2 separate regions of the Homo sapiens genome follow, and region 2 is linked to region 1. Evidence: fine-mapped QTL for protein levels in blood plasma. Region 1 holds a variant in brackets. A gene starts in the other region. All regions are shown on their reverse strands.

The links. PIP is the posterior inclusion probability: the model's chance that the variant is causal. The UK Biobank Pharma Proteomics Project read protein levels with antibody pairs (Olink). The fine-mapping took linkage between variants from a reference panel, not from the people measured, so its PIPs are less certain.
Region 2: FABP9 starts here. The variant in region 1 is fine-mapped to the plasma level of the FABP9 protein (UK Biobank, PIP above 0.99).

The regions. Positions count from the first base shown.
Region 1 is chr17:39,968,119-39,970,618 of GRCh38, reverse strand. It overlaps GSDMA (gasdermin A), which reads right to left. Exons shown (of 12, transcript NM_178171.5): 4 at 1-137. Among named protein-coding and RNA genes, the nearest start is that of GSDMA, 6.4 kb to the right of the region's middle. The variant G/C (reference allele first, on the strand shown) is at 1,526.
Region 2 is chr8:81,460,359-81,463,385 of GRCh38, reverse strand. FABP9 (fatty acid binding protein 9) reads left to right here and starts at 1,807. Exons shown (of 4, transcript NM_001080526.2): 1 at 1,807-1,935. The coding sequence starts at 1,863. LOC101927118 (a long non-coding RNA gene) reads right to left here and starts at 1,928. Exons shown (of 9, transcript XR_001745980.2): 1 at 1,412-1,928.

The DNA.
Region 1 (2,500 bases):
GGGAGAAGCAGGCCTCTGCCTTGCCGGCTCGCTCCAGTGTGACCTCCTGCACCGTCTCCACCACCTCCATCACCACATACAGGTTCTCCCCTTGATCTTGCATCTCCTTCAGGAATGGGTGGTCTGCTGCCAGCTTCCTGTTGCAGGAGAAACATAAGGGAACCGTTCAGAGCTCCTTCCTGCCTGTACCACACCCTCCTCTTTCCTTCTGTCATTCCCAGGAACTAGACATTGTGGTGGCAGGGAAGGAGTGAGGACTCTGGACTAGGGCTGAGGTTGAAACCCAGATCTCATGCTTACTGGCAGGGCAGCTTCTCTGAGTCTTAATTGCCTCATCTATGAAATGAGTATAATGATGCTGACCTCCTGGGTTGCTCAGAGATAAACTCGGTAATTGGGCCAGCACCTGGCCAGGAACAGGGCCTCTTGGGTGCTTCTTACCCCCTTTTCCTCCAGTTCGGGGGTAGATGCTCCCCCCCTCTTTCCTCCCCATTCATCTCTCTGGGATCCCGGGGGTAGATGCTCCCCCCCTCTTTCCTCCCCATTCATCTCTCTGGGATCCTTTCTCTCCACATCTTATGCTCTCTCTTGCTGTTAACACCAGTTCCTCCTCTCCACTTGCTCCTTCTGTCTGCTTCCATATATAAACTCCCTAATCCTAACAAATTTGTTTGCTTTGATCATGCCACTCCCTCAAATTACTACCCTATTTTTTCCTTCATTTCATTGGCAAATATATCAAAAAAATTCTTTTTTTTTTTGAGACGGAGTCTCACTCACTCTGTCACCCAGGCTGGAGTGCAGTGGCACGATCTTGGCTCACTACAACCTCTGCCTCCCGGGTTCAAGCGATTCTTCTCCCTCAGCCTCCTGAATAGCTGGGATTACAGATGTGAGCCACCATGCCCGGTCCACCTAAATTCTTTATAATTTGCCTTGTATTTCCACTACTCAGCTGAAATTACAATGATCTCTTACCTGTCAGTCTCAATGACCTCGCCTAACTCTGTGCAATACTCGATCCTGCTGTGGAAACCCTCCGTGCAACGCTGGCTTCTCTTGGCTTCCAGTCACAGTGTACCACCCTGGCTCAACTCCAGTACTTCTAGTTCCTAAATCTTATCCATTCTGTCTGCACCTCATTTTCCAGTTTCTTTGGTTCTCTAAAATTTTATGTTCTGTAAGATTCTGTTCTCAGTCCTGTTTTCTCAACTCCCTCTAAAAGCTCCCCACACCCAACTCACTCCTATAGTTTTTTCTTTTTTTTTTTTTTTAAGGTCCCACTCTGTTGCCCAGGCTGAAGTGCAGTGGCTCGATCATAACTCACTGCAGACTTGAGCTCTTGGGCTTAAGTGATCCCCTTGCCTCAACCTCCTGAGTAGCTGGGACTCTAGGCGCACCACCATGCCCGGCTAATATTGCGTTTTTTGTGGAGATGGGGGTTTCACTCTCTTGCCCAGGCTGGTTTGAACTCCTGGGCTCAAGCAATCCTGCCTTGGCTTCCCAAAGTGCTGGGCTTACGGGA[G/C]TGAGACTCCTCCCCTGGCTCCTACAGTTTTAATCTTTATAGTGCTGATTACCTTGTGTGTATCTTCACTTTGACCTCTTTCCTGAGCTCCAGGCCCTTATTTCCAATCACCTGTTCAACATGCTCAGCTGATGTCTCAGCAGAACCAGAAACTCAAAACATCCAAAAGGAACTCACAATCTCCAAATCTACCTCTAACCTGTGTCTTCCTGTTTGTCACCTGTAATGGTAGCTTTAATGTCCTATAATGTCACAACCTGGGTAAAATCTCGCAGTCACCTTTGACAAAACCCTTTCCCTCATCCTGCAATCAGCTACCAAGCCCAGGCCATTCTATCACCGTTGGCAATGGGCATTGCATCCATTCCTCCCTCTTCACTCCTCTTGCCCTTCCCCAGCTCGGGTCCTCAGTTTTCGTTGCTCATGGGATAGAAGAACAGTGTCTTGGCTGGGGGTGGTGGCTCACGCCTGTAATCCCAGCACTTTGGGAGGCCGAGGTAGGCGGATCACCTGAGGTCAGGAGTTCGAGACCAGCCTGGCCAACATGGTAAAACCCCATCTCTTCCAAAAATACAAAAATTAGCTGGATGTAGTGGCGTGCGCCTGCAATCCCAGCTACTCAGGAGGCTGAGGCAGGAGGACTGCTTGAACCTGGGAAGCGGAGGTTGCAGTGACCTGGTATCGTGTCACTGCACTCCAGCCTGTGCAACAGAGAGAGACTCCGTCTCAAAAAAAAAAAAAAAAAAAAAAAAAAGACCGGGCTCAGTGGCTCACGCCTGTAATCCCAGCACTTTTGGGGGCTGAGGCAGGCGGATCACCTCAGGTCAGGAGTACAAGACCAGCCTGACTAACATGGTGAAACCCCATCTCTACTAATAATACAAAAATTAGCCGGGTGTGGTGGCTCACGAGCCACCTTACCTCCTTCTTTCAACCACTACTTAACTGGGATTACTTCCCTGTAATCCCAGAACT
Region 2 (3,027 bases), not on the chromosome of region 1:
GTTCTGGGATACATGTGCAGAACGTACAGGTTTGTTATATAAGTAAATGTGTGCCATGGTGGTTTGCTGCACCTATCAACCCATCACGTAGGTATTAAGCCCCACATGCATTAGCTATTTATCCTGATGCTCTCCCTCCCCCCATAGCCCTGGCCCCAACAGGCTCCAGTGTGCATTGTTCTCCTCCTTGTGTCCATGTGTTCTTACTGTTCAGCTCCCACTTATAAGTGAGAACATGAGGTGTTTTTCTCTTCCTGCGTTAGTTTGCTGAGGATAATTGAAACCAGAAATCTGATGTTAGCTTTTGTCTCATGGGCCAACTGAGTTCTAAACGGACCACAGGAATATCATTCTATGACAGGAGAATCAAAACAACAAGGAAGATTATGCTGATGGGAGACCTTTGCTACACTACCCAGCTGGCCAACAGGCATAGCAATGTATGCTTGCTTTCTTTAAAGCAGAGAGTGCATACACATCTCGAACCAGTTAAGCAAACGTTTAACAACTTGCTCTATATTTGAACATCACCTCTGAATGCACTTTCAACTGCTGAGGCACTTATTTTGAGCTTGGGTCTTAGTTTCCTGAAATTAACTCCAGGATTTTCACTTACCCTGTTTTGCACTGTAGATAATTTAATAATTGTCCCACCCATAAAGATATCACATTATATGTTTCTTCTTTATATGTTTTCATCAAAAGCCATCCTTTATTCCACTTAAGTTATTGTTTTACAGTACCAAAATATCAACCTCCTGTTTATTTTGTTCACAAACAATATTTTCTGAATTAAATAAATACTTCATACAAAGCAGGTAAAAATATAAATATTCTTCTTCTGGTCCCTGACACTAACTTTCCAACATCTTCTAAAGTTAACTGGAGTTCAAAACCGTAATGTAAATCAACAGCTACTGAATCTACTCCTTCTTACTAAACTCAGTACCTGCAAAGTCCACTTCCATTATTGGGGTTGCAGAAGATGGTTTCAGAAGTAATGGCACAGAGATTGAAACCATTTGCTGCCTTTGTCTTTCTTTTAGAATGCAGATTCCAAACATCTTTTTCTATATGAAACTTGCCAAAATTTTTTCTTATAATTTAAAATATCTTTTAATGTAGAGTTTACTTTGTAAGCCTGAAAGACGAATTTTGTAGGCATTCGCTCTGCTTCCTTTTCAGAGCTTAAATCATATACTATTATCCAATGATAATTGTCACCTTTCTTTCCTGTCCTCAATTACCTTCGATTAACAACAATGATAATATATTAATAATACCCTCCATTTCCCTCCAAGCAATTATAGGCATTTTAGTTACATTAACTAATATCAACCCATCAACCCTGTAAGGAAGGGAAGGGAAGATATTATTTTAATGAAGAGGATGTTTGAGCACTGTGACTTACCCAAACAAAAAACAGCTGAGGTGGACCAAGCAAGGATTTCTTGTCTTAGGTAGGAAAACATCTCAGCCAGGTGTTTATCAATTTGTCAGGATATTCCTCCAGGGTTGACTCAGTATTCATTGTTCAAAAAGCTGATGTCTATTGAAGATTGTCTCCGTTCCACAAGTAATATTTGTCAGGTGACTTGGGTGTAAATCTTTTTGCTAGAAGCTAAAATCATTGACCAGAATTTAATTTTACATGCTAATTTTCTGTCTCTTAATTTGGAGGTAAATAAAATGAGTCAAATGCTGGTGCCTAGAATCTTTAGTCTTGCTGCTGTTGCCCATTGGCCATTTCAGAAGAGTCACGTGATGAAGACGCTCTTTAAATTAAACTACTGGCAGCACCGTAATGCCTATATTTCTTTGGTTTTCAATTACGAGTGGCTCTTCTCAGCAAGTGTTCCATGATGGTTGAGCCCTTCTTGGGAACCTGGAAGCTGGTCTCCAGTGAAAACTTTGAGGATTACATGAAAGAACTGGGTGAGAAATACCATTACAAATTTGGAAATTGGCAAAGCATTTTGTGATGTGATTGGGTTTGTACTTTACCATGAATTTTCCTACAATTATCTTCCTTTTGTGATCCTAGGGTATATAGACTAACACAATGTATGCTTCTACTTTTGCTTTTTTAAATTACTAGTAATAATTGTCTCTTTTTGGAAGACTAGGCCCACAGACACCTCTGTCCAGTCATGATCCATATATTTAAGCCCATTTATCCTTTTTGAAAATACTTCACCTAACTTCTAGATAGAATTTCATTTTAGCTTGGTCATTTCATTTAATAACATTTTTCCCAGCTTCAAATTTATAGACAGTAATCACTACCTACAATTAAATTGATCAATTAAATTTGTTTCAAGGTTTAAGTTATAGCTTTAAAACAGCAGTATCAACTAACAAAATTTCTAGTTGGTTAATTTTTAGAGTTCTCATAAATGTGAGAGATATTTTATAAACATGGTTTTGAAGAATTACAAATCTGAAGAAACACAACATTTTTACTCATTGAATGTCTCACCACTGGATATTCCTCAGAATTATAAACCCTACCAATCCTTTAATCTCTAACTCAAGTCATTTAGTTACACATTAATTATAATGACTTGGGTGTATAATAGCTAAACTGTTCTTTACTAATGGAAGAACAGCAATTATTTCATATTTTTCATATTTAATTAAGAGAAACCTCCCTTGTAGTAAACTGTATACAAAGCCAAGGACTTTCTTATCTTTACTTTTTTTTAACTTACATAACATGCTTAATGGATGCTTACAATTATTAATTATGTTTACTCATTCTAGACAATGAAATAACAATGCCTTATCCCCATAATAAGTCAATGTGCTTATAAATGTAATATTTGTTCCTCTGATGTAGTCAATATTCACTTTCTCAGAGGGTCATAAGAAACAAGTTTTTCTGTCTCTTCATAGATTTATAGACTCACTTGTTTTGAATAAAAATTGGGGGGGTATATAAAAAACTTGGGCCTTATGGCCAGAGTAGCACTTGTGTTGACTGGGAGCTGGGTTTAGGCATAATACAAGCAAGAATAACAGCTGAGC